Regions from separate parts of the Homo sapiens genome. Here region 1 is linked to region 2. A link means that fine-mapping ties the variant in region 2 to the expression of a gene that starts in the linked region. Tissue or cell type: whole blood. Region 2 holds a variant in brackets; the other region holds the start of a gene. Each region is shown on its reference strand, or each on the opposite one.

What was found. PIP is the estimated chance that this variant, and not a neighbour inherited with it, causes the effect.
Region 1: RGL4 starts here. The variant in region 2 is fine-mapped to the expression of RGL4 in whole blood (TOPMed, PIP 0.99).

What each region holds. Positions count from the first base shown.
Region 1 is chr22:23,682,829-23,698,051 of GRCh38, forward strand. RGL4 (ral guanine nucleotide dissociation stimulator like 4) reads left to right here and starts at 8,185. Exons shown (of 11, transcript NM_153615.2): 1 at 8,185-9,381; 2 at 9,507-9,700; 3 at 9,841-10,163; 4 at 10,931-11,146; 5 at 11,519-11,622; 6 at 12,122-12,191; 7 at 13,786-13,860; 8 at 14,343-14,417; 9 at 15,010-15,033. The coding sequence starts at 9,203. It also overlaps the pseudogene GUSBP11. RefSeq lists a silencer at 2,334-2,628 and enhancers at 12,592-13,092, 13,827-13,906.
Region 2 is chr6:143,915,379-143,930,601 of GRCh38, forward strand. All of the region lies in intron 6 of ZC2HC1B (zinc finger C2HC-type containing 1B), which reads left to right. Among named protein-coding and RNA genes, the nearest start is that of ZC2HC1B, 59 kb to the left of the region's middle. The variant G/A (reference allele first, on the strand shown) is at 6,770.

The DNA.
Region 1 (15,223 bases), not on the chromosome of region 2:
AAACTAGTGATATCCCATGGTTTTGCAAACCAGAACCAACAACTGCACAGAAACAGCTCCTTATGCGCCATCAGACACTCTCCAGACCTGCCCCTCACTCACAAATGTAACAAAGCAGCATGAACCCAGGCAGTCTTCACTCCTCAGGGCCACATAACAACCTCTATCGGTCAGGAAGCCTTTGATCTGGGCCAGGCTGCCGACCCACAGGGGTTAATTGTGCCTCTCATGCTGAGTGTTGTTTCTCCTCACTGGACTAACCCCCACCCTTCCACCAAGAAGGGCCCCCAGGGAAACTGCTGTTTGACATCCAGGAGCCCATGTGGAATGTTCCAGCAACCTGGATGGCCTTGGCCACCTCTAATACCAGCCTTTCCCTCTGTGGGGCTCCCTTCCTGGCTCTTGCTCATGCAAGTCAATCTAAAGTGGCTGAGATGTCCTGCTCCCTCACCCTCCTGGGTCACCCTGATGGCATAGGCAGGTGTCTGCATTCAAGAACGAGTTACCCACAGGCCAACTTCCCTGGTGTGGGGGACAATGCCTGGGGCCTCCAAACAGCCAGCCCCAGGTAAACAATCCAGCTCTGACACAGCTCAAAGACTGTGTGGCGTACCTGGAGAGACTCTCTGGTCCTGTGCCCTCTTCTGGCTCACTGGATTCTTAGGATTATTGAGAGACTGGGCTTAAAGCTCTCAGCCTAGGGCCCACAATGCCACAGGGAATCAAATCAGCATGACCAGGGATCGAAGACCTCTCCTTGGCTGGGAATGGGGAATCAGGGTTGCAGAGACAAGGGGCACAGAGAGATGCCTGTGCCATCAGAGAAGGGACTGGGGATCTGGTCCACTCTGGGCTCCTCAACCTGAGCGTGAGGCCTTGCTGTGCCATGAGCTCACCTGCCCCTTGGGAGTCCACTGTGACTGCAGTCCAGTGGGGTCAATGTCCACACTGATGCCGGAAAGAAGTCCTGGGAGATGCGGAGGGCATCCTGTAGCGGCAGGCAGTCTGGGTGGTCCACGGGTGTGAGCTTCAGCAGGTCCTGGGAAGGGATGAGGTGGTGAATTGGGGGCCGTGTTTTTGGGGTTCGATGAGAAGCTCCTGGGGGAATGCTCAGTCCTCACCAAAAGAATTCAAAGGGCAGGTACTCAGGGACCCACACTCGTGCCTGCAAAATCTGAACTGAAAATTAGAATCGGAGCAGCAGGGTTGATTCTAAAAGGGGCTGGGCTCGCTTTTCTCCCTGCTGCAGTCATTACTCGTTTCCCCTGGCAGAGGCAGCCGGGTGGAGGCTCATCTCTTCAAGCAGCTGGGAGAGACACCCCACTACCCACCCTGCAGCTGCTCCAAGGATACTGGAGACAAAAAGACAGGGGCTGGGGAAGCAAGATGTTCCTGCCTCGACCAAGACAGCAATTGGCCAAATGCCCTGACCCTGCTGGCATGGTTACCGCAGGCCAGGCAGGCATATTCAGGGCTCAGGATCCCTCTGCCTGACTTTTCAAATGGGCTGTTCTCAGTGACTCTGGCCCCCTCCCACCCTGGGCTCACTCTTGAGAAACTCCTAAGCCTTCTCTGGCCCTTCAGGGGCCTTAACGCTTATGTGTAGGACCAGGATGCTCTGAGTGACCTACTTGGTCAATGGGCTGCTACAGCAGAGCTGTTGGGGAAGGCAGAGAGAAAAAGGACAATGACAGACAAAGAACCACTCAACACCTCAGAGACCAGCTTTGTCCCCCACCCAACCGCCTTGCTCCCCACATGAACACCTGCTTGCAGGAAGCCAAAGTGGGTCCACAGCAGCCCACCTCTGTTCTCACTCCCAGGGCAGACAAAGCAGCAAGAACAGGTGACACACAGCCCCGGTGACCCTGTCCCCTCCCTACCCGTGCCTACTCTCCCATCAAACCTGGCTTCGAGGGCTGCCCGCCAGTCCTGTCCAGGCCTTATCTGGCTCAGAGCAGATGATCCCCTGCACCTCCCACCCTGAATCACACAGCTACACCCAGCACATGCTACAGAGGCCCAGCACACTCTGGATCACATCCAGAAACTCCACAATAGGGGAGGAGACATGCTGTTTCCCAGGAAGGGCAGCTCCCCAGACTTGGTCATTCTCAGACTCCTCCAGTCAAAGGCCGGGCACAGCCAGCTGGGATCGCCATGCTTCACTCTGACCCACACGACTGGCCTTGCCTCCTCTATGGGAAGAGACCCCTCAGCACAACCTCAAACCGAGACATAACAGGACAGGACAGGCTGGATGCTAGAGAGGCCAGCCAGATCTCCACACAAAGGCTCTGCTCTTAAGCAGGAGGTAGCCTGAGGGTCAAAGGTTTCCTGAAGCAACTCAGGTGAGACCTCACATACAAGAGCCCCAAAGAGGCTGCAAAAGCACCAGCTCAGCCAGCCAAGAACCCAGGTGTCACACCCTTCTCAGACCACTGAGGATCGCTGGGATTCAGCAGGAAAAGGTGGACATGACAGCTGATGGACCAATACTTCCCAACACCCTTCCAGCAAGCAGCTGTGCCCCGCCCCTCCCCACATGAGTCACTCAACTTCAGTCCTGCACATGGATGCCTTTGACCATGGGGTCATGGCTTTGGTCTCCTGCCATAGGGGCAGTGAGAGGAACAATGGTGGTCTGGGAAGGAGGATCCTAGACTGGGTGTCCCACAAGACCAGGCTGTGACAGATCCCAGAGCCAATACTCATGCGCCAGCCAGTCCCCAAACCCAACAGCTACCCAAAGCCCAGGATATAAATAGCCTGTGCACTGCTAAGCAGATACTTCAGGGAATGATCTGCTGGCTGTGAAGAAGATGCGGCCTCAGTAGGGTTCCACGAGCCTTCTGCCAGCAAAATCTTCTTTGCTTGGATGCCCATTAGAAACACTAAGGGAGCTCTTCAAAGGAACAGGCCAGACATGGTGGCTCACATCTGTCAACTCAGCATTGTGGGAGGCTGAGGCAGGAGGACAGCTTGAGGCTAGGACTTTTAAGACCAGCCTGGGTGGAACAGTGAGACCCCACCTCTACAAAAAACACAAAAATTAGCATGGCATGGTGGTGCATGCCCATAGTCCCAGCTACTTGAGAGGCAGAGAAGGGAGGATTCCTTGAGCCTGGGAGATCAAGGGTGCAGTGCCCATGATCATGCCACTGCACTATGGCCTGGGCAACACTGCAAAGTCCCGCTTTCAAAAAAGAAACAAACAAAACAAAACAAAACCAAAGATGCCTGTCTCCTGCCCCATCAAATAAATCCAAATCTCTGCAGGGTGACACAGGGTATTAACATTCTTAAATTTTGCCTTTGCTGAAGTAAACATATAGTAATGGCTGAAAACCACTGCGTTATGTAAATACACTTCCTATGACTTATTTGTAGTCCTTTTGTATCTAGCAATTTCTACAGACCCTCTCTGTGGGCTTCGGAAGCCAGAATGGGCAGGGCCAGGTGTGAGGTGTCCTAGGACACTGAGGGTAGAGCACAGCTCCCAGCTCAGGGGGACCCATTTCTGAGGCTAAGGCACCCACCTGGGGCTCAGCCTATCTTCAGAGGGAAAATCACACCTCAGAACACCAGACACCCAAAAGAAAGCTCCAGTTCGGCAGATACCTGCCAATAGACCCTGGAGTGGCTGCCCCAGGGAAAACTGCCATTGCACTGTCAGCTCCCTCCAGCCCTCTCTCAGGTCCCAGCAGGAGCAGATTTCTGACTAAGCTCAGAGGTCTCAACAAATGGCAGGTTGAACATCAGAGGAGTTATTAATAGGCCTATAGTTACCTCAAGACTCCACCTTACCAGGGCCAAAAATGAGTCCTGGGAGGGCAGCCAGAAAGAAAGTAGGGCAGAGAGGAAACACAGGGAGAGGGGCCCTGGGACCACGTCAGATATGGAGGGAACCAGGGGAACGAGAGCAGCCCTGATGATTGTACTCCCCACAGCCCCTGCATGCCTGTGAACCCTGAGAATTCAGGGTGAGGAGCTCACTCTTGCCTTTCACCTGTTCCTGGGCTCTGGCAGGCTGGCCTGCTTCCTGCCCCAGCCTCACCCACTCTCCGCACTCCTCGCCACTGATGTGGGCAGCTGATCTCTCCGGTTTGCTGGGCTCTCACCCTCTGCCCAATGGCACCAAGTTAACTTCTTCGCATGCTTTATTTTCTGTGATTAAAAAGGGAAACAATTCTCACTAACGCCATTTCTCAGAGGAGAAAACAGGCACAGGGATGTTCTATGACTTCCTCACGATCACCAAGCTACAAGGGGGAGCTGGGCTTTGAATGGAGGTCTACCCATGCTCCTAAAGTTGAGGCGTCCTCCAAGGAAAGGACAGCACCTATAAAAGCTCAATGAATGGGGCGGCAGTGTCACCACTAAGCCCGACCACGCTGCTACTCTGATATCCAACTTCCAGCCTCCAGAACAGGGAGAAATACAGTTCTGTTTTTGATGAGCTCCCCAGGCCGTTACAGCTCTTTCTTTGCTGTAACAGCCTGAACTAGCCCAGAAGTGCTATTCCATCATCTGTGTCATATTCCATCATTCAGAAGGGAGTCACTAACCCCTCAGTGCTGTCTCTGTGGACGCTGCCCACCCTAGGCTGAGATGAGGCACAGGGTCTGGGTCTAAATAAAATGGGAAGGCACTGGAAGGTGCAATGTCATAGGAGGAGGATGTCTGAATTTCATTTAATCTCAACCTCTACTGGTGCAGCATGAAAGATGAGGCCCAGAGCAAAAGTGTCTTTTCCCGAGATCACACTGTGGACCCCAGGCCCACTGGAGTTGCATTAGACGTTACCTCTCACCCCTTCTTGTATTTGTTCCATTTCTAAGTGTGTGCAATATCCACAGGGAACACCACACCATGAGTTTTTAAATATTTATCTCAAACATAACCTCATGAGTTCCCTAGGAAAGAGATGCTAGCATAACCCCCATTGTGCATGCTGGGGAGACCCCAAAACACCAAAGGAGTTCTCTAGGGTCTCACAACTGCTAAAATAAAGGCTGTTTGACCCAGCACTGTCTCCTCAAACCTGGGACCCTGGTTATATCCAGGTCTTCCCAAGGTGCTGAAGGGGCACACTTTTTCATAATGGTGACTACGTAAGGAGTTGACGGGGGAGGGTGAGCGGTCAGAAGCCCAGAGGGGCCTTTGAGTAGGACTTATGGAAAGGAGGAGCTTACAGGATGGAACCTACAAGATGTGACCTCACTTCCTTGCCGACAGACCCCCAACAGAACTTACAATTCTGGTAACTAGGCACCCACATTCTAGAGACAGCCCCATTTCCAGCTCACTTCGTAGGCGATGCTCGAGAGAACAACATGTTCTCCTGCTGTATCCCGACATGCTGCCGACCTCCTCGTCGCACAAGAGGCCAAAATGAGAGTCTTTCCCGAGAATATAGACATTGGTTCAACCCTCACCCTCGACGCCTCTGGCCCTTTGCCAGAAGGCACCCACAGGTAACACAGGGCCCAGGGCAGGCCCATCCAGGCTAGGCCTCAGCTGTGCCCATCAGGGCAGCCTCAGGCCCCTCCCCACTTGTTTGGGGGAAACAGGAGATGAGGGGCCCTCCCTGGATAGGAGCAGGTAGGTTGTCAGGTGTTTGGAGCCTGGTAGGTATGTCAGGTTCACAGCCCAGGCAGTGCCTGGCAGGATGGGAAGGTGAGTGTCAAGGACACAGTTTGTCTGCTCAGATCTGAATCCCAAGTCCTCAAGCTGTCATCTGCCGGAGACCTCAGGCTTCTCTGGCTGGAGGTCTATGCAGATGCTCCTATGTGCCAAATCCTGTTGGGGAAGGGGGTGCCAGGGATGAGTTCTAATGGGGGTGTCCCACTGTGGGGTCAGCCAGACAGGCCACTGACACCTCTTGGCCCGGCTCTCGGGCACTCTCTTTGCAGAGCTCCACACAACAGACCAAACAAGAGCTGTTGGATGGATTCAATTTCTCCATATTCTTCAAAGGGCACGTGCACCACACCACCAACCACGTCCAGTGCCGGTCTGCGGTGAGATTGGGCACAGAAGGGTCTCCACAGACAGGACTTGTGAAAACCAAGGTGGGCCCAGGACTCAGACACGAATATGGGGACTCCCTAAGCTCCATCCTAGGGCGTTCCCACTTGAGTGACCCACTGTCCTCTCCCAAAGGAATCTGGCTGCCATTAGTCCCCAGTGGCAACTTGGTTACAGGCAAAGTCCCTTTCACCTATCAGAGGAAGACCAGAGAAAATCCTTCTGTTTTCACTTTAGGCTATGCCAGGAGTATCTCGGCATGTTGCTTTAAGAATTGAGTACAATGGTAACATTGCAGCAAAATACTCACACTGTTATCATTTTAACTCCCCACCCTAAGTGGATCTCCGGCAACAGGCAGGCAGCTCCGCTGCCCTGCCAGACCTCCTCCAGGACTTAAAATCCAACACTTTTGCACAAACAAGGGGTGGGGGTGGGGGGGGTGCATTGATTACAACAAAAGAAGGTGAAGCGACTCTATGCATTAGTCTTTAAAGTGTCATCTCACAGAACTCATCCCTGCAGCCCCATCAGGCAGGAGTTGTACCCTCGCATGTCATTGTAACATTCCTTAAGGGAGGCCATTTTCCACAGCGGGTCAGCCTCTCAGTGCTGGTGGAGCCTGTCATGATAAAATTCCCTTTCGAGGCAGCCTTTCTACAAGGAGCATAATCCTATGCGTGTCCTAATAGGCTGGAGCAGTTTGCCAGGGCTGCCATAACACGGCACCCTGACTGAAGGGCTTAACCACAGAAATCTGGTTCCTCACAATTCTGGAGACTGGAAGTCCAACGTCAAACTGTCAGCCTGGGGTGGTTTCTCTGGGCCTCTCTCCTTGCCTTGGAGATGGCGGACTTCTATCTCAGTCAGCACAGGGTCTTCTCTTGAACTTCTCTGTGCGCTGACCCCCTCTCCTTGTAAGAACCCCAGGCATGTTAAATTAGGGGCCACCCTAATGAACTCACTTCACCTGAATTACCTCTTGGAGTACTCTGTGTCCAGACACAGTCACATTCTGAGTCTCTGGGGTTGAGAATAGAAACAGTTACATTTGGGGAAGGGGACACAATTCAACCCATAAAATAAACAAATCCCCTGCAGCAGACAGACACCCAGGAAAGGGATATCTGGGTGAAAGGATATGCAGATATCAACTTTCAACAGCTCTAGCTAGTTGACTTTCCAAAAGGGCTCCAGCTGGTCACACGGTCACCAGCAGCCTCTGAAGGTAGCTGCTTCTCTGAACGCAGCCTCCCCTGAATACTAACACGCTTTTAACTTTTCGCCAACCTGCTGTCTGTGTGGCAGAGAAAATCCTTGTTTCATTTCCACTTTCAAACATACATTTGCGTAACCTTTCACGGGTTCAATACCTGCCTGCGTTTTCCCCAAGTCGCCTCGCAGATCCTGGGCCTTGGGACGCGCTTCCTCCCACCCTGGAGTCTTCCGGCATTTTCCCCTTGGCCAGGGCTGGGATGGCCGTAGCTGTTTCTCCAGACTCACGTTCATGTTAAAGGAACAAAAACAATCATATACCTTTAAGTCAAAGAGTTCTTCTAGAGCGTATTGTCCTGTGTGCTGTTGCTGAAATGAGGAGGGGATGAGGCCTCCCCAGGCCTTGAGGACTTGCAGGGATGATGCTCTTCATGCAGGTTGCTGACACAGAGGGTGCTGTTGCCCCACAGCTGACAAACACCGGGACGATGCCTTGAAGGCAGGAATCGTTTTATCATTCTCCATCCTCACATGCAATGTTACTTTGAAAGCCTAGAACGCTTTTCACCATGGGCACCCAGGTTCTCCATATGCACAAGTCCCTGAAGGGTTGGTGCTTCTTGGTGTGAGTTCCAGATCCCGATCCTCTGGTGGTCCATGGTGTTACCACTGACTCCCATGTCCCTCCTTGTCCCCCTAGTATGAAAATGAGATCTGCAGGATGCTAACTTTCCAGCCCGGCACTGGGGAGAAGCTGTTGGGAGTCCCTGGTTCCAGCCTTTCTAACTAAACCCATCTCCTCCTATGCCACCTGCCTGGGCCCCTCCTGGGACTTTATCACTGTGCCACACTTTTTGGAACTACTGGTTAGAAGGTGAGTGTCCATCCCCCTCCAAGACACAGAGGTGCCTCTGTCCCCTACTGGCTCTGTCTTGAAGATGCACCTCTCGGAGCCTCGGTTGGCTCCTCTGGAACAGGGAGTAGTGAGAAGACGAACCTCACAGGGTTCTTGTAGGGACTCAATGATCTAAGACACAGCAAACAAAGGGGTCCCTAGAGCCTAAAACTCTGGAAAATCTGCTGGGGGTGCTGTGATTCATGTTTGTTACTTTTCTCTTCCCCCTCACTTGAAGCAGCTCTCAGCATTCTGCCTCAATGGCCTGTATCACTCACTGTTTGGAAAAACACATAGAAACCAAGTCTGCGATGGCACTGGTAAAGGATGTCTGAGATTCCTTCTGGCTGGTCTTTCTCCTTGACACAGACAGAAGAGGGGTCCCTTGGTGCTGAAAAAGGAGCCACAGGCCCACTCAGACATCTGGAGAGGCTCACTGGGGTTCTCCAAAGGTTGGGGTTCACTCATTCAACACATACATTCAAAACACCTCATTTGTGCATCGCTCTTCTTGGGGCTTGGCATAATTTCATAAACAAAGCAGATGACAATCCCCCGGCCTTGATTCTACTCAGAGTCAGGCACTCACAGTAGACAGAATAAACAAGTCATATCTACAGAATGTTACAGGTGAGACCCTCATGGCCTCCTCTACGTATGGTGGCATCCTCCCAGATTCTGACTAGAATGACGCAGCCCAGCAACAAATATAAACTGGGTGGATTTAGGGTTCTGAAGGGCCTTTTCACCCACAAAACATGGGGGAAAATATGTGGACTCTGGCTGGGGAGAGACTAAAGGAGCTCTGGGGCTCATACTTCTTATAATTCCCACGAGAAGGCTGACATCTGGGGACTTCCCCCACAAGAGGCAAATAGTGAGTTCTGTAAATGGAGACTTAGGTCCCCTGCAAAGCAGAGGGGAGGCTGGGGTCACAGCTGGCCACTGAGAGACCCATCCCCCTCAGCACCGTGGCTTCCCAGCTCTCCCTGTCCTCCTCCCCCCGACATCTGCCCCTTCCCTCCTAACCCCAGGACCAGGGGACCCAGATCTGGAGCTTTGATGAGGAAGCTGCTCACAAATCTGCCTGCAGCTGCAGTCTTGAGTGCCCAGGTGTACAGTGCTGTGCTCCAGGGCCTTTGGGAAGAGAATGTCTGTGGGACGCCAGGGCGCACGAGGGTCTGTACAGCCCTGCTGTATGGCCAGGTCTGCCCCTTCCAGGACAGCACTGATGGCTTACGGTAGGGTGGGGCTGTCCTCCACACTGGCAGCAACAGGCCAGGGACCCAGAACCACGCAGGGGTGCCCTGGAGGGTTGTGTGGGAGAAGGCCAGGCCTCTGACTCAGCTGTCTACTCCATCACCAGCACCATCACCTCCATTTTGTTCAACTGGCCCCCCGAAAACACTTCAGTTTACTATCAGCCCCCGCAACGGTCATCTTTCCGGATAAAGCTGGCCTTCAGGAACCTCTCCTGGCCTGGACTGGGCTTGGAGGACCATCAGGAAATTGTCCTAGGCCAGTTGGTGCTTCCGGAGCCCAACGAGGCCAAGCCAGATGGTGAGGGGGCTTGCAGTCTGCAAGACTTTCCGGGGGTGGTGTTTTGGGGCTACAATTCCCTTAAATTCCACCCGGTCATTTCTGTGCTTGGAAAACCCAGTGAAAAATGACTGGTGTGGTGACCTTTTCTCCTTTTCCAGATCCTGCTCCACGTCCTGGGCAACACGCATTAACAATGCCGGCCCTGGAGCCAGCACCACCACTGCTGGCGGACCTGGGGCCTGCTCTGGAGCCAGAGTCACCTGCAGCCCTGGGTCCACCAGGATATCTACATTCAGCACCAGGGCCAGCACCAGCACCAGGGGAAGGGCCCCCTCCAGGGACAGTGCTGGAGCCACAGTCAGCCCCAGAGTCCTCCTGTCCCTGTCGTGGGTCTGTAAAGAACCAACCCAGTGAGGAGCTGCCTGACATGACGACCTTCCCTCCCAGGCTGCTGGCAGAGCAGCTGACCCTCATGGATGCGGTGAGCAGCTGAGCTTTGCAGGCTGTGTCTCTGGCACCAGCTGTCTCAGACCAGCCTCTCCCTGAGGAGCAGCCAATGCCCTCGGTCCAATTTCAGCCCCACTTCTTACCAACCGTGGGATCTGGATGAGTTTCCTCACCCACAAGCCTTCCCTGTCTGCATGTGGACGGCAGAGATGGGACATCACCAGCGCCAGCTGCACAGAGTGACTGTGCAGACTGAGTGACAGGAGATGGACAGAAAGCAGGGCAGGGCAGGTGCTCACTGTGGGGCAGGCAGGGCCATGGGTCACTCACCCAGCTGCTCAGGAGCCTCACTACCCTCAGCACTTATTAGGTACCTGATGCATACTGGATTCTATGGTAGACACCCAAACAGAGCCCATAGTTGCAGCTGCCACAAGGAAAGTGCACCGGTACGGAGAGGAGTAGTAGAGGGCTGATTGGGATGGGAGGAAGACGAGGCCTCAGGATGGGCAGGCCTGAGCCACCTTCTAGTTCTTAGAGTGTGGATGGCCTGGGAGAAAATGTCACTCTCTCTTCCCACCCTTGTTGGGTTCTAGGCCATGATGCATTCAGGTCCCTCGGGGGCAGAAAACCAAACCCAGGGACTCCCACAAGTCTGGAGCCCATTTTAAAGCTTTCTGAGCTCCAGCTTGGTTCCTGCCAGAGACCGTGGATGACTGTGAGCTCAGTCCCTGCCTGGGACTGTGGGTGACTCTGAGCTGCAGTGTGCTGTGTCCGTGACACTCTCCTCCTCCCCCAAAGGAGCTGTTCAAGAAGGTGGTGCTCCACGAATGCTTGGGCTGCATCTGGGGCCAAGGACATCTGAAGGGGAATGAGCACATGGCACCCACAGTTCGTGCCACCATCGCACACTTCAACAGGCTCACCAACTGCATCACCACCTCCTGCCTCGGGGACCACAGCATGAGGGCCCGGGACAGGGCCAGGGTGGTGGAGCACTGGATCAAGGTGGCCAGGGTAAGCTATGGTTGGGCCTGGGGATTCCCTCTTTAAAAATGGGGAACTTCCTCTTCTCCTCCATCGGCTTTCAGGATCGGCATCTGTATCTCTGGCCTGGACCCTGCACATCCCCTAGGCTCTTCTTGCCAGAGCTTCACTCACCTTGACTCCCACGGCCCAGTGGTGGCTGCTCACTTCCGACCTGGGGTCTTCCTTGGGTTGAACTAAAATCCTCCTAGATGAGTGACATCCACTCGGCCCCAGGTCTGCCCTCCTGAGGCTCCCCAGGCCTCTGCTTCATCCAGGAGGGGAGATCTCAGCAGAGGGGGCTGAGGCTGTAGTGGGCCAAGCTCCAACTCTGAACCGCACAGCTCATTCTTCCCTCTCCAGGAGTGCCTAAGCCTCAACAACTTCTCCTCGGTGCACGTCATCGTCTCTGCTCTGTGCAGCAACCCAATAGGTCAGCTACACAAGACGTGGGCAGGAGTGTCCAGGTGAGGAGGGCTCTCTCCATGGCAGCATCAGGGTTGACCTAGGGACTCACAGGTCTCCCCCCATGTGCCCTCAATGACTCTGAAAGGTTCTTGGAGTCCAGGGACACTGGAGGCAGGGATGGGCCGGTGGCTGTGGTCACTAAGCTGCCCTGGACTCCTAGGCAAGGATTTCCAACTCAGGACTAAGGTTTTTTAACCATCAGGAACAGACTGGAGCCAACTGGAGGCTTTCAGGTGTTTGTACCCAGCAGTGGAACTCTGTGTCCAGCTGAAAGCTAACTGTAAACACGCAGTGGCTCATGTGAAGTGGAGATGGGGCCCAGGGGAGGAGCATGAGAGGTCCCACCCTGGTCCTCTGGAGCCCCTGTGATCAGAGGACTCCACTGAAAACTCTCACCCAGTAAGCTGGGATTCACTGGGTTTTCAAACAAAAGGGACTGGAACTCACAAATCTCCCCTGATTCCCAAATTTACCCTTCTTTCTTTCCTCTGCCCATAGCAAAAGCATGAAAGAGCTAAAAGAACTCTGCAAAAAAGACACTGCAGTGAAGAGGGACCTACTGATCAAGGTACAGTGGAGTCTGGGAGATGCAGGACAAGTGTTTAAGGGTCAGAGAAAAGAGTGAGTTTGGAAGGGCATTGGACCAGGTGTCGAGTGGTTATTTTGTTTGGTTTTGACTTACCTACTAAAAGTGGACTTGAAAAATTCCCTCCATGCCTACCTTGGGCCAACAGGAAGAGTGGTGTGTCGGTCCATGGGCACGTGGGGGCATGGGGGCAGGAGGCCCTGGAAATGGGATGTGGCAATGGCTGCTGGGCTGCTGGGCTGCTGAGCAGGGGTGATGAGCTGCAGCATTAGCAGGGCTCTGGCTCCCATGCTGGTCCATGCTGCTGGCATGGAGCTTCCTCCAGGCTGGAGGGTGATCATGGTAGGTGGGACTTCCTTCCTTCCTCAAACCGGCCAGCAATTCCTCAGGAAGCCAGGCCTCTGCTGCTGCTGCTGCTGCTGCTGCTGCTGCTGCTGCTGTCTGCAGCACACCTCCATGGGCAGGGGGCCTTGGCCTGCACTGGGGGAGAGGGGGAACAACAACAGAGGAAGCTCATGTGGCAGGGAGTCCAGTAACTGCCCAGCTTTGGGTACCAATGGGCATACTGGGGACAGACGTAGCTGTTTGCTGGGACTCCCCACTCTGCCCTTTGCAGACACCCAAAAACGGTCATGTCAGAGGATTCTCACCGGTTAGCAGCGACGCATGCTCATGACAAGTATCTGGGGGATTCATACATTGCTAGGGGATCCTCCCTGACCAGATCTCAGAATCGTCCATGCAAATGAGAAGGCAACATGTCACCCCACCCAGGACTCTGGAAAACCCTGCCATTGCAGTCAGAGATGGCGCATCAGGAGGCTACTTCCTCAGTGGAGAAAGAGAGAGTTCCGTGCACGGAACTCCCCTGGGGGATCATTGGCGAGGCGAAGCCTTTGGCATGGCTCAAACCCAGTTTGCGTGGCAGAGATTCCAGTGGGGCTGGGATAGGCAGGTGCCACTTAACCAGGTCTCCTAAAATGCCCTGTCCCTTTCCCATCACGACTGTATGTGGCTGGAGACCTAGACACTCAAAGACTCCAGAGAACACGACCCTGATGGGTGGTGGTGCTGGGATGTGAGCTGAAGGCAGCCGAGACGGAGCCTCCAGGAGCAGAAGGAGGCGTCCTCTCTTTGGGGGCCCTGGGGAGCCACTGCCCGCTCTGGGCCTCTGTTTCCTCATCTGGAAAATGAAGGGATGCTGAGCCTGTAGTGCAGGCCTCACAGGGTAGAAATGAAGTTCAAGAAAAGAAAGCAATTTGAGGGTGCTCGTGCCTGGTTCTTCCTCAGAGGGATGACGGTGAGAACAACGGCAACAGCTACAGGAAACTGAGCCCTCAGAGGCCCTGTGAGGTAGCTGTGGTTTGCATCACTCTTTACAGAAGAGGAAACAGTCTCAGGGAGGCCCGGCTGCAAGACTGGGTGACACACACAGGGAGTGTGGATCTGGGCCAGTGGTATGAGCACGGTGCCAGGTGGCTCCCGCCACTCCCTGGGGATCCAAGTGCGGGGTGGCTGGGGTGTAACTGGGGGAGAGGAGGAGAGCCTCACTGTCCCTGTCGCTGACACCTGGCAGGCGGGGAGCTTTAAGGTGGCCACCCAGGAGAGGAACCCCCAGAGAGTCCAGATGAGGCTGCGGAGGCAGAAGAAGGTGAGTGAGCCTGTGGCATGGACGGGCCGCAGGGGATCAGAGGACAGGGCTCCCTTCCCCGCCAGCTGGAGGCCTCCATATCAAGACAGCGGGGGCTTCCTCCCCAGCCCTGTCCTCCTGTGGCCACTGGGCCTGGAAAACCTTCATTTGAGAGACCAGAGGAAGGGTCTGGGAAAGCTGGACTCAGACTAGATGTGGGGAAGGGTAAAGCTGGGACCACAGGCCTTTGTGACTTGTTAAAATCCCACCATAGAGGTTAACAAGGAGTGCTTGCTAGACTTGGAGGTCAGCTGGGATACAGGAGGCAGAGAATTGGGAAAGGCAGCTGAGGGTCTTTGGCTGCTCCAACCGGGAGACCTGAGGAGGGGGCTCTGGGAGACAGGGGCTGATGGGATTTCATGGGACAGGACCTTGGGCAGGCACCTGAGGGCCAATACTCATCACCACTACCCCTCCCACCTCCCCACCCCTCCTTGGCACAGGGTGTGGTCCCCTTCCTGGGGGATTTTCTGACTGAGTTACAGAGGCTGGATTCGGCCATCCCGGACGACCTGGATGTGAGTGAGCCTGGGGCAGGGTGCTTGGGAACCAAGATCCTGAAGCTTGGGAGGAGAGGGTCCTGGACCGAGCCTTTAGATCTCAGCCCTTGGCAAACCTCCTCTCCTAAGAGCCTCACAGCTGCTCCTGTGGGTGGGGGTGTCAGGCCCATCTCATCACCTCTGAGTGATGGAGGCTCCATGGCAGCCACCAGGCCCTATTCCTGAGTGGTGAAGCTGCAGAGCTGCCTGACTGCAAAGCTGCTGAGGTGTGGGCTGAACTGGGCTCAGCTTCTCCCTAGGGTAGTCCCGTAATAGGAGGGTGAAATTGAGCCTCTCCAAGGGCAGGCAGTTCCAAGGTCACTGAGCGCTTTCTTTCTATGAGAGACCTCAGTTTCCCTGTCTGTCATCACAGAGGGTTGGGGCAGAAGGTCCCTGGGCCTCAGCTCCCATTCCCCCTGCTCTAGAGCCCGGAGCCTGAGGCAGGTCCAAGTCCTGTCGTGTGCACATCCCCTGACCCTGGTGGCCCTGGCAGTAGTGCAGCATGGGAAGGGGTGGGGTGGGGCTGGTTGTGGGCCAGGGGCCTTTCTGATGGACTCTGTCTGCCTTCCAGGGCAACACCAACAAGAGGAGCAAGGTGAGCAGCTGGGGCACTCACGTTGGATGAGGGTGGGGATGTGGACGTCACAGTCCACCCTGGGCAGGACACTCCCTGGCTCCATCCTCTACATCTTAGGCTTACTGGGAGTGTTTGACACACACAGGAGGAGGGGACCTATCCCAGGAGAAAATGGGAAAAGCACTGGAATCAAAGACCAATTCCTGCA
Region 2 (15,223 bases):
CCAGCCTTGGGTATGTCTTTTTCGGCAGCATGAAAACAGACGAATACAGTAAATTGGTACCAGTAGAGTGGGGCGCTGCTGAAAAGATATCTGAAAATGTGGAAGTGACTTTGGAACAGGGTAACAGGCAGAGGTTGGAACAGTTTGGAGGCCTCAGAAAAAGGCAGGAAAATGTGAGAAAGTTTGGAACTTCCTAGAGACTTGTTGAATGGCTTTGACCAAAATGTTGATAGTGATACGGACAATGAAATCCAGGCTGAAGTGGTCTCAGATGGAGATGAGGAACTTGTTGGGAACTGGATCAAAGGTTCCTCTTGTTATGTTTTAGCAAAGAGACTGGTGGCATTTTGCCCCTGCCATAGAGATGTGTGGAACTTTGGACTTCAGGGAGATGACTTAGGGTATCTGGCAGAATAAATTTCTAAGCAGCAAAGCATTCAATATGTGACTTGGGTGCTGTTAAAGGCATTCAGTTTTAAAAGGGAAACTGAGCATAAAAGTTTGGAAAAGTTGCAGCCTGACAATGCAATAGAAAAGAAAATCCCATTTTCTGGGGAGAAATTCAAACTGGCTGCAGAAATTTGTATAGGTAATGAGGAGCTGAATGTTAGTCCCCAAGACAATGAGGAAAATGTCTCCACAGCATGTCAGAGCCCTTTGTGGCAGCACCTCCCATCATAGGCCCGAGGTTTAAGGGGAAAAAATGGTTTTGTGGGCCAAGCCCAGCATCCATCTGATGTGTGCAGTCTAGGGACTTGGTGCCCTGTGTCCCAGCTGCTCCAGCCCTGACTAAAAGGGGCCAAGGTACAGCTCAGGCTGTTGCTTCAGAGGGTGGAAGCCCCAAGCCTTGGCAGCTTCCACGTGGTGTTGAGCCTGTGGGTGCACAGAAGTCAAGAACTGAGGTTTGGGAACCTCTGTCTAGATTTCAGAAGATGTATGGAAACACCTGGATGCCCAAGCTAAAGTTTGCTGCAGGGGTGGGGCCCTCATGGAGAACCTCTGCTAGGGCAGTGTGGAAGGGAAATGTGGGGTCAGAGCCCCCACACAGAGTCCCTACTGGGGCACCGTCTAGTGGAGCTGTGAGAAGAGGGCTGGCTGCCGTCCTCCAGACCCCACAATGGTAGATCCACTGACAGTGTGCACTGTGCACCTGGAAAAGCCGCAGACACTCAACACCAGCCCACGAAAGCAGCCAGGAGGGGCTGTATCCTACAAAGCCCCAGGGGTGGAGCTACCCAAGGCTGTGGGAGTACACCTCTTGCATCAGAGTGACCTGGATGTGAGATATGGAGTCAAAGGAGATTATTTTGGAGCTTCAAGATTTGACTGCCCCACTGGGTTTCAGATTTGTGTGGGGCCTATAGCCCCTTTGTTTGGCCAATGTCTCCCATTTGGAATGGCTGTATTTACCCAGCACCTGTACCCCCATTGTATCTAGGAAGTAACTAATTTGCTTTTGATTTACAGGCTCATAGGTGGAAGGGTCTTGCCTTGTCTCAGATGAGACTTTGGATTGTGGACTTTTGCGTTAATGCTGAAATGAGTTAAGACTTTGGGGGACTGTTGGGAAGGCATGATTGGTTTTGAAATGTGAAGACATGAGATTTGGGAGGGGCCAGGGACAAAATGATATAGTTTGGCTCTGTCCCTACCCAAATATCATCTTGAATTCCCATGTGTTTTTGGAGGGACCCAGTGGGAGGTAACTGAATCATGGGGGCAAGTCTTTCCTGTGCTATTCTCGTGATAGTGAGTAAGTCTCATGAGATCTGACGACTTTAAAAAGAGGAGCTCCCCTGCACAAGCTCTCTGTTCTCTTGTCTGCTGCCATGTGAGACGTGCCTTTCACCTTCCACTGTGATTGTTAGGCCTTCCCAGCCACATGGAACTGTAAGTCCAATAAACCTCTTTCTTTTGTAAATTGCCCAGTCTTGGATATGTCTTTATCAGCAGCATGAAAACAGACTAATACTACCGTCTTCTTTTGTTTTTAGTTGATTTTTGAAGCAAAACATTTATATTCCTTCCTCATTTCCTTTTGTATGTATAACTATTTTCTTAGTAGTTACCATGGGGACTACATTTAACTTCCTAATGTTATCACATTCTCATTTGAATTTATTCCAGCTTATCTTCATAACATACAATAACTGCTCCTTCAGCAATGTCTTTTCCACCCATTTTGTTATTGATGTCACAAAATTACATCTTTATACAGGTTGAATGCTCCTAATCTAAAAATCTGAAATCTAAAATGCTCCAACATCTGAAACTTTTTGAGCACTGACATGACATGCAATTGATTTTTGGATTAGTGATGTTCAACCAGTAAGTATAATGCAAATATTCCAAAATTTAAAAAAAAATCTGCAACACTTTGGTCCCAAGCATTTCAGATAAGGGATCCTTAATTTGTGCTTTGTATAGTAAACTAATAATTCCTACATTTGGTCTCTTAAATTATGTATAAAACAAAACGTGGAGTTACAAACCAGTTACAGTACTAGTTTTTAGACTAATAATTGTTTTTTAAAATGTGTTAGTCTCTTCGATCATGTAGAAAACAAAAAAGTGGAGTTGCAAACCATTATTACAATAGTACTAGCTTTTATAATTGTCCATGCATTTACCTTTATTGAGATTTTGATTTCTTCATACAGCTTCAAGTTTCTGTCTAGGATCCTCCCACTTCACCTTGCAGGACTCCCTTGAGTATTTCTTGCAGGGCAGGTCTCATGATAATGAACTTCCTCAGCTTTTGTTTATCTGGGAATGTCTTAATTTCTTCTTCGCCTTTTTTTGGTAAGAGACAGGATCTTACTTGTTGCCCAGGCTGAACTCAAGCTCCTGGGCTCAAGCAATCCTCCTACCCCAGCCTCCTGAGTAGCTGAGACTAGAGGCATGCACCTCTGTACCCATCTCTTCCCTTACTTTTTGAAGGACAGTTTTTCTGTATATGAGATTTTTGGTTGACAGTTTTTTTCTTTTACCACTTTGAATATGTTGGCCCACTGTGTTTCATCCTCCATGGTTTCTGATGAGAAGTCTGCTGATCTTATTGAACATTCCTGGTTTGTGACAGGTCATTTTTTTTCTTGCTACTCTGATTATTTTTTGTCTTTTTCTTTTGAAAGTTTGATTATAATGTGTCTCAGTGTTGGTCTCTTTGAGTTTGTCTTACTTTTAGTTTTTGAATGATTCTTAAATGTTTATAGTCATGTCTTTTGTTAAATCTGGCAAGTTTTCAGCCATTATTTCTCTCTGCTCTTTTCTCTCTCTGCTCCTTCAGGTATTCCCACAATGCATATGTTGGTCAGTTTGACAGTGTCCCACAGGTCCCTAAGGCTCTGTTCACCTTTCCTTAAGTTTTTCTCTTTCTGTTCCTCAGACTTGATAATTTCCATTGTCCTGTCTTTAAGTTTGCTGAGTCTTTCCTCTGTTTGTTCAAATGTATTCTTGAATCCTACTAGTAAAGTTTTCATTTCATTTATTCTATTTTTCAGTTCTAGAATTTTATTTGGTTTCTTTTCAGGATTTATCTTCGTGGATATTTCCATTTTGTTCATAGATCTTTTTCTTGAGTCTCTTCACATCTTTTTTTAGTTCCCTGAGCATCTTCAGTTGTTTAAAAGTATTTGTCTAATAGATCTGTTTAGCAGATCTGTCATCAGGTCTTTTTTTGGGAACAGTTGTGTTGATTTTTTTTCTTTGAAGGTGCTATACTTTTCTTTTTCTTTGTCTGGCTTGTCATTTTCTTTGTTGTAAATTGGACATTTGGACCTAATAATATGTAACTGTGGAAATTAGATATTCTCCCTTCTGCAGGGTTTGCTATTCTCTGTGTGTGTGTGTGTGTGTGTGTGTGTGTGTGTGTGTGTGTGTGTGTGTATGTGACTGTCTCTGTGCCAAGGATCAGTCTTAGGTGTCAACTTAAGGTCTTCTCAGTATTTTTGAGCTTGTGCCTTTCTCTGGGTGTGTCATGTTCACCTTCTAATTTCCTCATATATGTAGTTTTTTAAAAAAACATTGTAGTTTTTAATGTCTAGTTTCCAAAAGGGAGAAAAGACAAAAATAAAAGGAGAGAAGGGCACTGTCCCTTTAAATCCCCTGGAAGTTACTTCAGCCAGAGCAGAAGGGGCTTACAACAATGATGGGAGGTACAACAACAATGGCCACCTGCCTCTTTGTACCTCTTTGATCAGAAACAACAATCAGTGATCAGAGCATAAATCTCTGATAGTTAGAGATTCTTATTTGGGTTCTTATTTGCCTACCATGGCTCCCACAGGCCATGTCCAGATTGATCCAGGAATATGTGCAGAGCTCTGCCACACAGCACAGCTGAGGGGTGGAGGATGTGTAGCTGTGCTAAGATCTGAAATTGGTGAAATTAACTGTATCTTACTGTTCAAGCCTTCCCCTGGAAGTTGCAAGTCTTCAATAGACTCCAGAGTCCAAAATAGTTATATGGGACACATTGTGCCAGCGCAATTGTTATCTAGGAGGGGAGACAAATTCCTGGTGCTTCCTACTCTTCTATCTTTCCAGAATTCTGACAAGTAATTAGTTTTTTCCTCATTTGGGAAAAACTTAACAGTGAGGTAGATACTAGTTTTCAGTAAGAAAAAAAAATTTAAATTGTATGTGTATTCATTTGGTAAAACTTTTACCAATAAGCTTTTTTCTAAAGTACAATGCTTAGTGTCCTTCAGAAAAATAAAAAAACAATTTCTTTATATTATGGTTTCTTTTTTTTATTTTCCAGAGATAATACATATGAGAATGCTTAAAGGAGAAAAAAACACTCCTTTAAGTTTGAGGTCAAATTTTATTTCTCAAGAAGGAATATTTCTTAAGTTATAAGGATTAGATAACAAATCAACACGAGGGTCTAGAACCATTGAGCTCTTGTTTAGTAAACTTGGAAAGAGATCGTGAATGGGAAAAGACAGCATGTCAGTTACGGTGTTGAAAATCAGAAAAGAATTTCCTTCCTTGAACTGATTTATTTAAAGTAGCAACAAGACATAAGAGAAAAGGTCCCAAATTAGGAATCAAAAGTCCTGTGTCCTAGTATGTGATGTTAAGCAGAACATTATAAAGATACCATTCTAACACATAAGAAAATAGACTAGTAGATCAGTAAATATAAGCAAAATGGTATTATGTTTGCTCTTGACTAGTTAGTGAGGATTTATAAGTACTGTGATGTCACTAAGTAAAAGGCAAAGTTCTTAAAATGGTTGACACGGCTGGGCGTGGTGGCTCACACCTGTAATCCCAGTACTTTGGGAGGCCTAGGCAGGCAGATCACAAGTCAGGAGATCGAGACCATCCTGGCCAACATGGTGAAACCCCGTCTCTACTAAAAATACAAAAATTAGCCAGGTGTGGTGGGACGTGCCTGTAATCCCAGCTACTCGGGAGGCTGAGGCAGGAGAATCGCTTGAACCCAGGAGTCGGAGGTTACAGTGAGCCAAGATCGCCACTGCACTCCAGCCTGACAACACAGCGAGAGACTCCGTCTCAAAAAAAAAAAAAAAAAAGGTTGACACTAGTTTCCATAATACCATCTGAGCTCACCTTCTCCTATTTCTCCTTTTTTGAAAAAAACCGAATCCCAAATGTAATACAATGCTGTTTCTTCTTAATCCTGCTCCAGCTACAAGTGGCCCCAGGTTGTTCCTTGACCATAGCAGCCATACACACTCCTGTCTCATGACCTTTGTACTGGCTGCCCCCTCTGCTGAAAACAAAAACACTCTCCCAGTAATCTGCACTGCTCACTCATTCACTTCCTTCAGTTCTTTGCTAAAGTGTCGCCTCAGTGAGACTTCTCCAACCTCTGTATTTAAAACTAACCAAGCCTTCCCTAATTCCTTTGTAATTATTTCCACATAGCATTTATCACCATCTAATATTCAATATATATTTAACTCATTCGTCTCTCATGTACCAAAAAGAAATGGAATATAAGTTTCAAGAAAGGGGAATTCTCTACTGTATCTTTCTCTATTGTACTGGAATATCCCTACTTTTTAGAGTTGTTTGTGGCACACAAGAGGGACTCAGTAAATACTTGTTGAATGAAATGTATGAGGAGAAGTGGAAATCTTGATTCTATCATTTCACACTCAAATTATTATCATAGAATAGAATTATCATGTTAATTAGCTTTAAGAGATAGCTTTGTTTTATTTCAAGCTCAAGATGCTTTTTAAATTTAATTTCTTACTCTCTACTTGCTTAAGTAAAAAAATATAATTGCTGGCTGGGTGTGGTGGCTCACATTTATAATCCCGGTGCTTTGGGAGGCCAAAGTCAGAGGATCACTGGATGCCAGAAGTTCAAGACCAGCCTGGGCAACATAGCAAGACCCTGTCTCTACAAGAAAAATTTAAAAATTTGCTACATGTGGTGGCACCCACTTGTAGCTCTTGCTACCCAGGAGACTGAGGTGGGAGGATTGCTTGAGTCCAGTACAAGTGTTCAAGGCTGCAATGAGCTATGATCGTGCCACTGCACACCAGTCTGGGTGACAAAGTAAGTCCTTTTCTCTTAAAAAAAATAAAAATAAAGTTGCTAGGGTTAATGTGTCTTTAAATTAGTCACATATAATTTGGAGCCATTCTGGGGAGGAATTAGAAGCATACTGGGTGAAGGTGAATCTCTAAAGTGTTTAAGGACTTGGAGAAAAGTACCAAATGCCTTTCGTTGATACAAACAAGCCCATGCATTAGTTAGAATCTCACTTAGTGAGATTTCCTTC[G/A]TTCTGTTCTGATACTAGTCTACTTGTAATATGTGGTCTTTTTGTTGATATATAATATTTGTACATGTTTATGGAATACATGTGGTATTTTGATACATGAATAAAATGTGTAATGATCAAATCAGGGTATTTAAGATATCTATGACCTCAAACATTTATTATTTATTTGACTTGGGAACATTTCAAATCTTCTTTTCCAGTTATTCTGAAATATGGAATATATTGTTGTTAACTGCAGTCACCCTACTGTGCTATCAAACACTAGAACTTATTCTTTCTATCTAACTGTATTTCGTACCTACTAACCAACCTCTCCACCAGCACCCTGCCACACACATACCCTTCCCGTCCTCTAGTAACTATCATTCTATTCCCTACATCACTGAAATCAACTTTTTTAGCTCCCACATATGAATGAGAACATGTGATATTTGTCTTTCTGTGTCTGGCTTAATTCATTTAACAATAATGACCTCTAGTTCCATACACATTGCTGCAAATGACAGGATATCATTCTTTTTTTGTGGCTGAATAGTATTCCACTGAGTATATATACCACATTTTCTTTTTTTCAAATTTTATTCACATGTTTTATTCATTCATCCATTAATGAACATTTAGATTGATTTCATATGTTGCTATTGTGAATAGTCCTGCCATAAACAAGAGGATATGGGTATCCCTTTGATATACTGATTTCCTTTCCTTTGAATAAATACCCAAGAGTGAGATTACTAGATTTTGTGTTAGTTGTATTGTTAGTTTGTTGAGGAAACTTCATTCTGTCTTCTGCAAGGGCTGTACTAATTTACTTTCCAACCAACAGTGTATAATATAGAGTTCCCTTTTCTCCGCATCCTCACAAGCATCTGTTATTTCTTGCCTTTTTGATAAGAGCCATTCTAACAAGGGTAAGATTTTGTCTCATTGCGTCTTGGATTGGCATTTCCCTGATAATTAATTATGTTGAACATTTTTTCCATATACCTGTTGTCCATTTTTAAGTCCTTTTTTTTTTCCCTGTAACCAGGGGTGAGAGAGGTATGTCTTCTTTTGAGAAATGCCTACTCAGATCCTTTGCCCACTTTTTCATGGGATTATTAGTTTTTTTGCTGTTAAGTTGTTTGAATTCCTCAGGTATATGTGTTGTGTTAGATAAAAAACACAAAAAGTTGTTTGAGTTCCTTGCTTATTCTGAATATTAGTTCCTTGGGAGATGAATGGTTTGCAAATATTTTCTCCTATTTAGCATGTTGTCCTTCTCACTCTGTTGATTGCTTCCTTTGCTGCATAGAAGCTTTTTAGTTTATATAGTCCCATTTGTTTATTTTATTTTTGTTGCCTGTGCTTTTGAAGTCATGGCCACAAATTTTTTGCCTAGACCAATGTCTGAGAGCATTTTCCCTATTTTCTTCTAGTAGTTTCATAGTTTTGGGTCTTATGTTTAAGTCTTTCATCAATTTTGGGTTGATTTTTGTATATTGTGAGACATAGGGATCTAGTTTCATTTTTCTGTACTTGGATATCCAGTTTTCCCTGTACCATTATTGAAGAGGATGCCTTTCCCCAATTTATATTCTTAATGGCTTTGTTGAAAATCAGTTAGCTGTAAATACATGCATGTATTCCTGGAGTGTCTATTCTGTTTCATTGGTTTATGTGTCTGTTTTTATACCAATATCTTGCTGTTTTAGTTACTACAGCTTTTTAATATATTTTGAAATCAGGTATGTGATGCCTCCAGCTTTGTTTTTTTTTACTCAGGAACACTATGGCTATTTGAGCTCTTTAATGGTTCTATACAAATTTTAGGATTTTTTTGTATTTATATAAAGAATGTCATTGGTGTTTTGATAGGGATTACATTGAATCTGTAGATTGCTTTGGGTAGTATGGTCATTTTAACAATAGTAATTCTTCTGAGTCATGAGCATGGGATATCTTTCCATTTGTTTGTGTCCTCTTAACATTCTTTCATCAGTGTTTTGAAGTTTTCCTCGTAAGCGTCTTTCACTTTCTTGGTTTAATTTATTCCTAAGTATTTTATTTTTTGTAGCTATTGTAAATGAGATTGTTTTCTTTTTTAGCCAGTTTATTATTGGCACATAGAAATGCTGCTGATTTTTATATGTTGATTTTGTATCCTGCAATTTTACTAAATTCATTTATTCTAGGAGTGTTTTTGGTGGAGTCTTTAGGTTTTATATATATATATATGTATTACATATATATATCCATGTATATATAATACACACACACACATATATCCATGTTATCTACAAAGAGGGACAGTTTGACTTCCTCTATTCCAATTTAGATGACATTTATTTATTTCTCTTGCCTGATTGCTCTGGCAAGGACTTCCAGTACTATGTTGAATAAAAGTGATGACCCTATCTCTAAATAAATAATAAAAATGAAGTGGTGGAACTGGGTATCCAATGTCTTGTTACAGGTCTTTCAGCTTCTCCCCACTCAGTATTATGTTAGCTATGCATTTGTCAGATATGACCTTTACTATGCTGAGGCATGTTTCTTCTATGCCTAATTTGTTAAGAGTTTTAATCATGAAAAGAAGTTGAATTTTATAAAATTCCTTTTCTCTGTCTCTTGAAATGATCATATTGTTTTTGTCTTTCATTCTGTTGTTGTGAGGTATCACATTTATTGACTTGCATGGGTGGAACCATCCTTTCATCTGATGTATTATCCTTTTATGGTGCTGTTGGATTCACTTTGCTAGTATTTTGTTGAAGCTTTTTTGTGTCTGTGTTCATCAGGGGTATTGGCCTGTAGTTTTCTATTTCCATTATGTCCTTGTCTGGTTTTGGTATCAGGGTAATACTGGCCTCACAGAATGAGTAAGGAAGAATTTCCTCCTTTGAATTTTCTGAAATAGTTTGAGAAGAATATGTGTTAGTTTTTCTTTACAAGTTTGATAGCATTTGGAAGTAAAGACATCCGGTGCTGAGCTTTTCTTTGTTGGGAGACTTTTTATTACTGATTCAATCTCATTCCTTTTTTTTTTTTTTTTTTTTTTTTTTTTGAGACAGAGTCTCACTCTGTCGCCCAGGCTGGAGTGCAGTGGTGCGATCTCCCCTCACTGCAAGCTCCGCCTCCCGGGTTCACGCCATTCTCCTGCGTCAGCCTCCCGAGCAGCTGGGAGTATAGGCACCCGCCACCATGCCTGGCTAATTTTTTGTATTTTTAGTAGAGACGGGGTTTCACTTTGTTAGCCAGGATGGTCTCGATCTCCTGACTTCGTGATCCGCCTGCCTACGGCCTCCCAAAGTGCTGAGATTACAGGTGTGAGCCACTGCTCCCAGCCCATTACTTGTTATTGGTCTATTCAGGTTTTCTCTTTCTTCCTTATTCATTCTTTTCTTTTCTTTTTTTTTTTTTTTTTGAGACGGAGTTTCGCTCTTGTTGCCCAGGCTGAAGTGTAGTGGCGCGATCTCGTCTCGCCGCAACCTCCGCCTCCCGTGCTCAAGCAATTCTCCTGCCTCAGTCTCCCGAGTAGCTGGGATTATAGGCATGCGCCATCACACCAGGCTAATTTTTTTGTATTTTTAGTAGAGATGGGGTTTCTCCATGTTGGTCAGGCTGGTCTCGAACTCCTGACCTCAGGAAGCCCACCTTGGCCTCCCAAAGTGCTGGGATTACAGGCATGAGCCACGGTGCCCAGCCCTGATTTATTCTTAGTAGATTGTATGTGTCCAGGAATTTATCCATTTCCTCTAGCTTTTCTAATTTGTTAGCATATAGTTCTTTATAAGTCTCTGATGATTTCTTGTATTTCTGTGGTATCAGTTGTAATGTCTCCCTTTTTGTTTGTGATTTTGCTAATTCACATCCTCTCTCTTATTTTCTTGGTTAGTCTAGCTAGTGATTTATCAATTTTGTTTATCTTTTCAAAAAACTAACTTTTCATTCCATTGACCTTTGTATTTTTTTTTAAAGTCTCTATTACATTTAGTTCTGCTCTGATCTTTATTGTTTCTTTCCTTCCGCTAATTTTGGATTTGGTCTGCTCTTGCTTTTCTAGTTATTGAGGGGGCATCCTTAGCTTGATTATTTGAAATGTTTCTACTTCTTGATATACGCATTTATTGCTATGAAATTCCCTCTTAGCACTTCTTTTGCTACATCCCATGGGTTTTGATATGTTGTGTTTCCATTCTCATTTGTCTCAAGACGTTTATTTCCTTCTGTCTTCTTCATTGACCCAATGGCTGTTAAGCATGTTATTTAATTTCCATGTATTTGTATAGTTTCCAAAGTTCCTGTTGTTATTGATTTCTAGTTTTATCCTATTGTGATCTGAAAGGTATTTGATATGATTTTGATTTTTTTTTTAAATTTAGACTTGCTTCGTGGCCTAGCATATGGTCTATACTAGAGAATGTTCCATGTGTTGATGAGAAGAATGTATATTCTGTTGCTATTGGATAAAATATTCCATGCATGTCTTTTAGGTACGTTGATCTGAAGTGCAATTTAAATCTAATGTTCCTTTGATGATTTTCTGTCTTGACGATCTGTCTAATATAGAGAGTAGGGTGTTGAAGTCTTCAACTATTATTGTATTGGAGTCTATCTCTCCCTTCAGATCTAATAATATTTGCTATATATAACTGGATGTTCTGGTGTTAAGTTCATATATATTTAGAATTGTATCTTCTTTTTTTTTTTTTTTTTTTTTTTTTTGAGACGGAGTCTCGCTCTGTCGCCCAGGCCGCTGCAAGCTCCGCTTCCCGGGTTCACGCCATTCTCCTGCCTCAGCCTCCCGAGTAGCTGGGACTACAGGCGCCCGGCTAATTTTTTGTATTTTTAGTAGAGACGGGGTTTCACCTTGTTAGCCAGGATGGTCTCGATCTCCTGACCTCATGATCCACCCGCCTCGGCCTCCCAAAGTGCTGGGATTACAGGCGTGAGCCACCGCGCCCGGCCCGAATTGTATCTTCTTACCGAACGAATCCCTTTATCATTATATGGTGACCTTGTTTATTTATTTATAATAGATTTAGGGGGTACAAATACAGCTTTGTTACATGGGTATATTGCGTAGTGTTGAGGTCTGGGCTTTTAGTGTAACCATCACCTGAATAGTGTTTATTGTACCCATTAGGTAATTTTTCATCCCTTACCCGCCTCCCACCTTCCCACCTTTCCAAGTCTCTAATACCTGTTATTCCAATCTGTATGTCCATGTGTGCATACTATTTATCTTTCATTTAGAAGTGAGAACATGCAGTATTTTGCTTTCTGTTTTTGTTATTTTACTTGAGATAATGGCCTCCAAATCCATACATGTAGCTGCAAAAGACATTATATTATTTTTTTCATGGATACATAGTATTCCATATATATATTTACCACATTTTCTTTATCCAATCATCCATTGATGGTTATTTAGGTTGATTCGGTATCTGTCATGACTAGTGCTGTGATAAACATGAGTGCATGTATCTTTTTGATAAAATGATTCTTTTCCTTTGAGTATATGCCCAGTAGTTGGATTGCTGGATCAAAGGGTAGTTCTATTTTTAATTCTTTGAGAAATCTCTATACTGTTTTCCATAGAAGTTGTCTAATTTACATTTCTACCAACATTTATAAGTGTTCCCTTTTCTCTGCATCTTTGCCAACATCTGTTATTTTTTGACTTTTTAACAGTAGCCATTCTGACTGGTATAAGATGGCACCTCATGGTTTAAATTTGCATTTCTCTGATGATTAGTGATGTTGAATATTTTTTCATATGCTTTTTGGGCATTTTTATGTTTACTTTTGAAAAATGTCTATGTTCTTTGCTCACTTCCTAATGCTTTTTGTTGTTGTTGACTTGTTTGAATTCCTTGTAGATTCCAGATATTAGTCCCTTGTCAGATGCACAGTTTGCAAATATTTTCTCCCATTCTGCAGGTTGTCTGTTCTTGTCTGTCTATTTCTTTTACTCTACAGAAGCATTTGTTTAATTAAGTCCCATTTGTCTATATTTGTAATTGGTGCATTAGCTTTGAAATCTTAGTCTTGAATTCTTTGTGTAGGCCAATGTCCAGAAGAGTTGTTCCTAGGTTTTCTTGTAGAATTTTTAGTTTTCGCATCATACATTTCAGTCTTTAACTCATCTTAATTTTTGTATATGATGACAGATAAATCCAGTTCATTCTTTTGCATGTGGCTATACAATTTTCCCAGCACCGTTTATTGAGTAGGGTGTCCTTTCTCTGATGTATGTTTTTGTCAACTTTGTCGAATATCAGTTGGCTATAGGTATGTGGCTTTATTTCTGGGTCTTCTATTCTGTTCTGTTGATCTATATGTCTATGTTTATACCAGTACCATGCTGTTTGATTACTATAGACTTATAGTATAATGTGGAGTTAGGTAATGTGATGCCTGCTTTTGCTATTTGGGTTCTTTTCAGTTCCATATGAATTTTAGGATTTTTTTTTTCTAATTCTGTGAAAAATGTCATTGCTATTTTGATAGGAATTCTGTTAAGTCTGTAGATTGCTTTGGGCAATGTGGTCATTTTAACAACATTGATTCTTCTAATCTGTGAGAATGGAATGTTTTCCCATTTATTTGTGTCCTCTTAACTCTCTTTCATCAGTATTTTGTAGTTTTCCTTGTAGACATCTATCACTCCTTGTTTAAATGTATTCCTAGGGTTTTTTTTTTTGTTCTTTTTTTTTTAACTATTGGAAATGGGATTGACTTTTGATTTGGTTCTTAGCATGATTATTATTGCTGTATAGAAATGCTACTGATTTTTGTCGATTTTGTATCCTGGAACTTTACTGAATTCATTTATCAAATCTAGCAGTCTTTTGGAGAGGAGTCTTTAGGGTTTTCTAGATATAAGATCATTTCATCAGCAAACAAAGATAATCTGACTTCCTCTTTTCCCATTTTGATGGCTTTTATTTTTTTCTCTTGCCTGATTGCTCTGGCTAGGACCTCCTGTACTGTGCTGAATAGCAGTGGTGAACATGGACATACTTGTCTTGTTCTAGTTCTTAAGGGAAATTCTTTCAACTTTTTCCCAGTGTGTTATTGGCTGTGGGTTTGTTATACATGGCTTTTATTGTTTTGAGGTATGTTCCTTCTATGCCTTGTTTGTTGAGGGCATCATGATAGGATGGTCAATTTTATCAAATGCTTTTTCTAATCTATTGAGATGATAATATGGTTTTTGTTTTTCATTCACTTGATGTGATGAATCACATTTATTGATATGCATATGTTGTACCAACCTTGCATCCCTTGCAAAACCCACTTGATCATATTGTATTATCTTTTTGATGTGCTGTATGATTTTGTTTGCTTGTATTTTGTTAAGGAATTTTGCACCTATGTTCATGAAAGGTATTAGTCTGTAATTTTCTTTTTTTGTTGTGTTCTCTACTGATGTTGGTAGCAAAGTGATACTTTGTAGAATTAGGGAAGAGTCCCTCCTCTTCAGTGTTTTGGGACAGTTTCAGTTGGATTGGTAGCACTTCTTTTATGTCTGATAAAATTTGGCTGTGAATCTGTCTGCTCCTGGGCTCTTTTGTTGTTGTTGTTGTTGTTATTTGGGGGAGATATTTTTAAATTACTAATCATATCTCACTACTTATTATTGTTCTGCTCAGGATTTCTATTTCTTCCTGGTTCAATCTTGGGAGGTTGTATAGATTCCACAAATTTATCCCCTTCCTCTAAATTTTCCAGTTTGTGAGCATATAAATAGTCATAGTAGTCTCTGATGATCTTTTGCATTTCTGTAGTATCAGTTGTAATGTCTCCTTTTTCTTTTCTGATTGTGCTTATTTGAATCTTCTTTCTTCCTTCCTAGGTTAGTTGACCTAGTGGTCTACCAATCTTGTTTATTTCTTCAAATGAACAACTTTTTGTTTTGTTGATCTTTTGTATTGTGTTTTTGGTCTCAAGTTCATTTAGTTCTGCTCTGAGCTTTGTCATTTCTTTTCTTCTGCTAGCTTTGGGTTTGGTTTGTTTCTTTTGTTTCTTGATGTGTAACATTATGATGTTAATTCAGGATCTTTCTTTTTTTAATGTAGGTGTTTAATGCTAATACTGCTTTTGCTGTTTGTCAAAGGTTTTGATATGTTGTGTCTCTGTTTCCTTTTGTTTCAAAAATGTAAATTTTTGTCTTTTGTCATTGACCCAAAAATCATTCAGGAGCAGGTTGTTTAACTTTCATGTATTTGTATAGTTTTGAGAGTTTCTTTTTTTTTTTTTTTTTTTTCCTGAGACGGAGTCTTGCTCTGTCGCCCAGGCTGGAGTGCATTGGTGCGATCTCAGCTCACTGCAAGCTCCGCCTCCTGGGTTCATGCCATTCTCCTGCCTCAGCCTCTCCGAGTAGCTGGGACTACAGGCGCCCGCCACCACGCCCGGCTAATTTTTTTTATATTTTTAGTAGAGACGGGATTTCACCGTGGTCTCGAT